Regions from separate parts of the Homo sapiens genome. Here region 1 is linked to region 2. A link means that fine-mapping ties the variant in region 2 to the expression of a gene that starts in the linked region. Tissue or cell type: whole blood. Region 2 holds a variant in brackets; the other region holds the start of a gene. All regions are shown on one strand. Distances are from middle to middle.

Region 1 (4,395 bases), 78 kb before region 2:
CACTATGTTTTAGTTATTTGTGGATTCCTATCACCTAACATCTGGCACAAGAGCACTCAAGAACTTTCTCAAATGAAGTGATTAAGAATCACCATGACAATGGGCAGGGGAGGCAGTGAACTGTAATTATTCGGTTAGAGAACATTTAGGAAACATCAGGAATATTGAGATGAAATCGAGCTATATATTATGATATATCTATCCATCAATTCTAAGCACTAATAGCCCAAATGATTGCTGCTCTAATGCTCTGGCTCATCACGCCAATTTTTATTACAATCTTTACTTGGCTTCTTTCAGACTCTGGGTTATTACCTTCCGGCCGTAGGCCTTTACTAATTTGCATGACTTTTAAACTAATCATTAGACTTAAAAAGCAATTTTGCAATTTAAGTCCATGGCAATTAAATGACTTCCTACCTCAAGGCGCTAAATTACCCTGAAACACCTCATCAGACCTACCAGCCTATACAAGAGCAGGAAGTGTTGCAGTTGTGTTTTAGAACGTGCATGGCAGATTCACAAAATGTTAGGCATGAGAGTGGATTTCCTCGCACTGTGGGACTCCAAGTGCCCATAAAGGGCTTCATGCACCTTCTTAAACATGATGTCCAGCACTCTGGCCACCCCTTCCAAGGGTGTGTGTGTGCCTGTGTGTGTGTGTGTTTCAGTGGCTGCGGGGCCACACCTTGGGATCTCCTGAGTGGCAGGTGGCCTGTTAATGAGTCCTGACATCAGAGTCATTCCGGCATTTGTGTGTGTGTGTGTGTATGTGTGTGAGTGTGTCGGTGGCTGCGCGGCCACGCCTTGGGATCTCCTGAGTGGCAGGTGGCCTGTTAATGAGTCCTGACATCAGGGTCACCCCCGCATGCACAACAGTACAAGCCTCCCCGCGCAGCGGACTGTGCCGCGGACGCCTGCAAGCCGTGCACCCATCGCACACACTGAGGTCTCGGCGGTCATCCCTCGTGGGAGAGCTGGACAACCACGGCCGAAGGGAGGGCAGTCGAGGGGGGAATAGGCTGAGGGGCTGGGGGCGAGGTGGGTAGATCCTTCACAGGGCTTGGCGCTCCCTGTGTTTTGAGGGGCAGGACCCTGCACCAACCTCCACGAAGGCATCAGTCAGGTCACTAGCACGGTCCATCACTGGCAAATGGCGCCCGGCCACGATTTTCACCTTCAGCTTCCCTGGCATGGTCTCGGTTTCGGCCTCTTCTTGGGCTCCTGCAGAAACAAACAAACGAGTCTGCGCCGAGCGCGGGGCCGGCGGGAGAGGGGCGGAGGCGCGCGGGGTAACTGACAGCGAAGGAGCGCGCGGGGGCGCGCGCGGGCGCCCGGCAGTCGCGCCACGGGTCGCCACTCACTGTCGCAGGAGGAAGGGTGCTGTCCCGCGCGGGTGCTGAGACCTCATTCCGGAGAGGCGGCGGGAGGAAGGGCTTTGATGGGTTCTTCCGTCCCGGCCCCACAAGGCTGGGACGAAAAGCAAAACCCAGTCAGCATCCCGTTGAGCCTCTGCCGCCCCTGCTTGTCTCTCCTCCCCCGCTCTCAAAAATGGCGGCTCTCGGGGCGCGGAAGAAAGCATCGATCGTTCGGCGCTCTGCCCACTTGGCGGGGCGAAACTAAACTCGCCGAGGAAAGATAAGGGGGCGGGGCTGACGTTGAGAAAGCTGGAGGGCAGGGAAATGGGCCGAGTCCTGCATCATCCACCGAGTGGGGGCTGTGGATAGGTGCGGCGCTGCTTCCCTGGAGGGAAACGCTCCATCTTGCGGGCCGAAGCGCGAGTGCTGCTCTGTGACAGCCTCCGGCCGCGGCCTTCCCAGCTGCTACCGCCGCTTTTCGGATGGGCTGTGATAGATGGAGTAGCAGCGAAGACTGCTAGAAGAGCGTTTTCAGTCGGCCTTTAGTGATTCGTAAAACCAAATTAGCTGGTTTCTACTTGGAAGGGGTACAGGTGCGTGTGGTGGTTCCAGTTTTCTGTGAAATAGAGTTAGATGGCCAGGCACAGTGGCTCACGTCTGTAATCCCAGCACTTTGGGTGGCCGAGGCGGGCGGATCACCTGAGGTCAGGAGTTCAAGACCAGCCTGGACAACATGGCGAAACCCCGTCTCTACTAAAAATACAAAAATTAGCTGGGCGTCGTGGCGAGCGCCTCTAATTCCAGCTACTCAGGAGGCTGAGGCAGGAAAATCGCTTGAACCTGCGAGGCGGAGGTTGCAGTGAGCCGAGATCACTCCTCTGTCTCCAAAAAAAGAAAAAAAAGAAAGAAAGAAATAGAGATACCAGGCACATCTCGAATAGTGAAATAAATATTTAGTGAAATATTTTATTCAGTCATAGGCACTTGTGTTGTGCACTGGGTCACAGATATTACTGTGGGCGGGGTGGGGGAGGTCACCTTGAAATCCAAAGTCTCCTCTTGAAAAAAAGTTTCTGCTGGTAGGTGTGGTGGCTCAGATTTGTAATCCCAGCACTGTGGGAGGCTGAGGTGGGAGGATCGATTGAGTCCAGGAGTTCGAGACCAGCCTCATGGAGACGAGGCAACACAGTAAGACCCCTTCTTTACAAGAAATGCAAAAATTAGCTGGGCCGGTGGCTCGTCTGTGGTCTCAGCTACCTAGGAAGCTGAGGTGGGAGAATCTGGGAGAATTGCTTGAGCCCAGGAGTTTGAGGCTGCAGTGAGCTGCCATCTCACCACTGCACCCCAACCTGGGCAACAGAGCAAAACTCTGTCTCTTAAAAAAAATTTTTTTTTAATTAAATGTCCTGCACTCTTAGATCATCTCAGTGTTCTTATTAAGCATCCACAAGCCTAAAGATAAGACCTACAGTAGTAGCAGAAGTTCAGGACTTCCTACCATGGAAAGTATAGTCAACCACAAGAAATAAACATGGAGAGCGTTAAACATCTTGAAGAATTGACCCAACTATAAATAAAGTAAGGTGTTATCTACAGGCTCAGACCATATTAGGGAAATTGAGGCACACACAAGATGTAAATAAATCAGTCCTTACCAAATATCAAAATCAGCATTGACAGTATACCCAGTATCAACAAAATCAGAGTTCATGCCGGCTCAAAGATTGTAACATTTCATTCCTAAGTGAAGATATCCGTATGATCTTTTTAACTTCGAAAATACTCAATAGAGTAAATACTCCAAACAGTAGTGATCCCGAATTATCTTTTCATGACAAAAATTCCTTCTATGGCAGGAATATTGTTCACATAAGTGAGAAATTGAACTCCTACAGAGAAAACGACTTCCTCAAAATAAAAATCTAAAAAAATCGCTTGCTTTTTGGACTAGAGAAACTTTTATCAATTCAAACTATGTCAAAGGAATAGGGGTCATAGATCCCATGCGAATTTCCTTAGGTCCACCTGCAGCTTTTTCTGGAGTCTGACTCTGCCCTTAAAATACCCTTGCCAGAATTCTGAAGGTTGGCTACACTATGTGATCAACGTTTTTTATTTATTTATTTATTTAGAGACAGGGACTCACTCTGTGTCCCACACTGGAGTGCAGTGACATGATCATAGCTCACTACAGCCTCAATCTTCTGGGCCAAGCGATCCTCCCACCTCAGCCCCCCAAGTTCCTGGGACTACAAGCACATACCACCATGCACCGCTAGTTTTTTAAATTTTTTGAAGAGATGGAGTCTCCCTGTATTGCCCAGGCTGGTCTCAATCCTGGTTTAAGCCATCCTCCTGCCTTGACCTCACAAAGTGGTGGGATTACAGGCATGAGCCATCTTGCCCGGCATGATCAGTGTTTTTTGTTGTTTTGGGTGGTAGAGTTGAAGTCGTTTTTGTGGTGAAATCGAAGTATTACCGTATTACCAACTCATTTTTTAAAATATGAAATGTATAAAGAAAAAATATTAGAAAATTGAAGTTTAGCACCAATATTAATGGAAAATAATGCATTGTGTTCCAAAATGTAAAAAGTTGCAAATTGCACAATTAGAGGTTAGCAATCTCAGCCTCCTAATTAGTAGACTTTGAGGTACTTGTACGTACTTGTTGCCTTAGGCTTCATCAACAAGAGATTATAATTAAGATGCTTCCTGAAAACTATTTTTAGTAGATTTAAGCCTGACTTCAGTTGAACTGTTTCCTAATAATTGTTCTCGTTTGTTTTCATTAATGCTGGGAACAGTGCTAACTTTCTGACAAATCTACCATGATGTGACTCCTGATTACCTTGTTTAGCTTCATACCCTGACACTCTTTTTGCATTTTAAATTATCAATAACAAGAATTAACGTGTATTGATGGTTTGCCGCACACCAGCTACTGAATTCAGCGTTTCACAGCTGTTAAGGCTCCCTAAAATCCTGAGGTAGGAATTATCAGCCTTCATTTTATAAATGAGAAAATTATGGCTTTT
Region 2 (4,395 bases):
ACTTGGCATTATCAGACTTCAAAATTTTTTCCAATCTAATGGTGTGAAATGGTATCTCATTATTTTAATTTATATTATCTTAATTATTAGACATTACAATTAGGGAGGTATAGTTTCAAAAGTTTATTGGCTATTTGGGTTTCCTTTTCTTCAAACTGCTATTTGTTTGCCAGTTATTCTACTGGGTGGTTTAACTTTCTTATTTATTAGTAGTATCCTGAGTATAAATACTTTTTGATCATACACATTGCAAATATCTGATCTTTTTATGGCTTGTCATTTATCTTCATGGTATTTTTGGTCATGAGGTTTCAAATTTTAATGTTTTCAAATTTATCAGTCCTTTTCCCTCATAGTGTGTGCTTTATGAGTCTGTTTAGGAATCCTTCTTTAACTTGCAATCATAGAGATCTGATCCTATATTTTCTGACTTTTTTATTAATTTACATTTATTAGCTACTACTGCAAGGCAGTATGTGGATTGACAAAAATACAAATATGAACTAAAGTCCATAGTTTATATTAAGGTTCACTCTTTGTATTGCATAGTTCCGTGAGTTTTGACCAATTTATAATGTCATGTATCCACCATTATAATATCATACAGAATAGTTTCATTGCCCTAAAAATCTCCTATGCTCCATTCTTCCCTTCTTGTGACTTGGTCCTTCATTTCTTTTCATCATTCAATAATGTTCCATTTTATGGATGTAGCAGTTTTTATTGTACATTCACCTATTTTCTTGGTTGCTTCCAATTTTTGACAGTTATGAATAAAGGTGCTAGAAACATTAGTGTGCAAGTTTCTGTGTGGATGTAAGTTTTCAAGTCATCTGGGTAGATACCAAGGAACATGATTGCTAGATTGTATGGTAAGGCTATGTTTAACTCTGTAAGAATCTGCCAGACTGTCTTCCAAAGTGGCTGTACCATTTTGCATCCTACCAGTGATGATAGTTCCTCCTCACATCTTCATAGCATTTGGCTGGTTGTGTTTTGGATTTCAGCTGTTCCAATAGATATGTGATGGTATCTCATTGTTTAGATGTTGAATATGTTTTCACATGCTTTTGTGCCATCTGTATATCTTCTTGATGAGATATCTGTTCCGATCATTTGCCCATTTTAAAATTGGGTTTTTCTATTGTTAAGTTTAAGGAGTTCTCTGTATAGTTTGAATAGAAGTCTTCTATTGAATATGTTTTGCAAACATTTTTTCCAGTCTGTGGCTTGTCTTTACATTATCTTAACTATCTTTTGCAGAGCAAAAGTTTTTAATTTTAATGAAGTACAACTTAACAGTTTTCTTTCATGGGTTGTGCTTTTGGTGCTGCATCTGAAAAGTATCTGCCAAACCCAGAGTCACCTAGATGTTCTGTTATGTTGCTTTCTAAGAATTGTATAGTTTTGTGTTTTATATTTATGTCTATGATCCATTTTAAATTACTTTTTGTGAAAGGTGTAAGATCTGTGTCTGGATTCTTCTTCTTCTTTTTTTTTTTTTTTTTTGCAAGTGTATCTCCAGTTGTTCCAGCACCATTTATTGAAAATTTGAATTGCCTTTTTCCTTTGTTAAATATTAAATATTAGTTGACTATATTTGTGTGGATCTATTTCTGGACTCTATTTTGTTCCATAGATCTATTTCTCTATTCTTTTGAGAATACTACACTGTACTACACTGTCTTTTTTTTTTGGTTTTGAGACAGAGTCTCACTCTATTACCCAGGCTGAAGTGCAGTAGTGTGATCTTGGTTCATTGCAACCTCCGCCTCCCAGGTTCAAGTGATTCTCCGGCCTCAGCCTCCCGAGTAGCTGGGATTACAGGTGCCTGCCACCACGCCCAGCTGATTTTTATATTTTTAGTAGAAACAGGGTTTCACCATGTTGGCCAGGCTGGTCTCAAACTACTGACCCCAAGTGATTCACTCGCCTTGGCTTCAATACTACACTGTCTTGATTATTGGAACATATACTATTTTTTTTTCTTTTTTTAGGCAAGGTCTAATTCTGTTGCCCAAGCTTGAGTGCAGTAACTTGATCATGGCTCACTGCAGCCTCAATCTCTTGGGCTCAGGCAATCCTCCTGTCTCAGCCTCGGAGTAGCTGTGACTACAGGTGTGCACCACCACACCTGGCTA[AT/A]TTTTTTTTTGGAGAGATGAGGTCTCACTGTGTTGCCCAGGCTGGCCTTAAACTCCTGGGCTCAAGCGAACCTCCTGCCTCAGCTTCCCAAAGTGCTGGGATTACAGGCATGAGCCACTGCACCCAGCTATACTGTCTTCAAGTCTGTCTGTTTTCTCACTTTGTTTTTCTTTAATATTGTATTGGCTATTCTGGCTCTTGTGGCTTTGCATGTAAACATTAGAACTGGTTTGCTGATATCCACAACATAACTTGAGGTGATTAGAATTGAATCAGTAGATCAGGTTGATAAGAACTGATATTTCTTGCACATTTTTAAAGTTTTGCTTTTAACATTTAGGTTTCTAATCTTCCCCAAATTAATTTTTATGCATAATAAGAGGGAGGGATCAAAATTTTTTTCTCATACAAAAAGCAATTGTATCACTACGGTTCATTGATCAGTCTGGACTTTCTCACTAATTTTTAATGCTACTTTTGTTATATACAAAGTTCTCATATGTGTGTAGGTTTTGTTCTGGGACTTTATTATGTTCTAGTAGTTTATTTGCCCATACCTAAACCAATATATAATACATCCTGGTAGGGTTGGTCCTCCCAATATATTCCCTGATCTTACCTGTCCCTATCCTCCTCTCCCCAATTACAGCGCTTTTCTTGGACCTTAAGTTTTGATATGAATTTCAATGTCATTTTAACAAGTTCAGTAAAAAAACCCTTTTGAGATTTTAACTGGAATTGCATTATATGTACTGATTAGTTCAGGGAAAATTGAGGCCTTTACATTAATCTTTTCTCATTTATGAATATGGTTCATTTCTCCATTAATTTTATCCATGGATCCTGTACATTTTCGGTTACTTTTGTTCTCAGGTACCTAATAGTTTTTTTTTCTTTTCTTCTACTTGTTAATGGACTCTTATTTACCATTACAAACTAGTGCAGTTTGCAACATAATTTTCAATTAAATTGTTTTACAGTTACATAGTTTTAAAATTCTTAAAATGTCAACTGCTTAATAAAAAATACAATTTATACAAAAATACAAGAGATACTATCTGAAATGTGAAAGTAGTAGTATATTTATGATTTCTCCCCAAAGTGGAAGGAACACACACTCTAATGTTTCTTGTAGAAAATTATGCCTAAATCTGGCAGGGCGCGGTGGCTCACGCCTGTAATCCCAGCACTTTGCGAGGCCGAGGTGGGTGGATCACCTGAGGTCAGGAGTTCGAGACCAGCCTGGCCAACATGGTGAAACCCATCTCTACTAAAGATACAAAAATTTGCTGGGCGTGGTGGCACGCGCCGGTAATCCCAGCTACTCGAGAGGCTGAAGCAGGAGAATCCCTTAAACCCGGGAGGCGGAGGTTGCAGTGGGCCAAGATCGCGCCATTGCACTCCAGCCTGGGCGACAGAGTGAGGCTCCGTCTCAAAAACAAAACAAAAAAAAACAGAAACAAAAAACAAACAAAAAAACCACTAAATTTGAAAAATGTTAAATCAACTTCTTTGCTGTATTATAAAGCTCCATTTCCACCCCTCTTTTTAGTTTAGGAAGTTTACCGTTATCGGTGAAGTAATTATTTTGTTAATTACAAAGGTAAGTAGGTTCTTTCTGAACAATCAGGATGTAAACTTAATGCTAGTGAAGTAATTAAACATTTTGAATGTTAATTAAACTCAGTCCAGTTAAGGGTTTTATTTACTACTAACAAACGTATTCACCGTGTGCTAAGTGCTGCAGGGAATCCCAGCCCGTTTTCCTCCATCTAAAAGGAAAATTAGGAGGTCCCAATACTTTACTTGTAGATTTTCCAGTTTCTACCATTCCCTGTAAGGCACTGAGACGCAAGATTTCAAGGCCCACTCGGGGTACCCTGGCATGGACATCGAGTCGTTCTAGCGCTGAGCTTCAAAACTATTCCTTTCCTTCCCTTTCTTCTTCATACCAGACTCTAATCTGTTCTCCCTAGCTTCGAATTATTCACTGTATGGTCGAACATCTTACTCCACAAATAACCTCTGAAGTGTTGCAGTTGTCTTACCCAAATACCTGAACTCAGCTTGTCCCGAGTACTGCGATCCCGCGTACTGCTAATGGGAATATAGTTAACCCAACTAGTATGAGGTCCCCAGTACACAGCAGCTCCAAGATCAAGGCGACCGAGTAACACTGCTTGCCTAGACTCAGGCCAAGTTCGGAGAGTGATCCTGGGGTTATTTTAGAACGTGTCCCTTGCTTCCCAGAAA

What was found. PIP is the estimated chance that this variant, and not a neighbour inherited with it, causes the effect.
Region 1: C2CD5 starts here. The variant in region 2 is fine-mapped to the expression of C2CD5 in whole blood (INTERVAL, PIP above 0.99).

The regions. Positions count from the first base shown.
Region 1 is chr12:22,542,956-22,547,350 of GRCh38, forward strand. C2CD5 (C2 calcium dependent domain containing 5) reads right to left here and starts at 1,587. Exons shown (of 27, transcript NM_001286176.2): 1 at 1,365-1,587; 2 at 1,106-1,224. The coding sequence starts at 1,195. RefSeq lists enhancers at 1-347, 1,488-1,717 and a silencer at 1,228-1,347.
Region 2 is chr12:22,620,483-22,624,877 of GRCh38, forward strand. It overlaps ETNK1-DT (ETNK1 divergent transcript), which reads right to left. Exons shown (of 4, transcript NR_135030.1): 1 at 4,191-4,395. Among named protein-coding and RNA genes, the nearest start is that of ETNK1-DT, 2.4 kb to the right of the region's middle. RefSeq lists an enhancer at 4,334-4,395. The variant AT/A (reference allele first, on the strand shown) is at 2,142.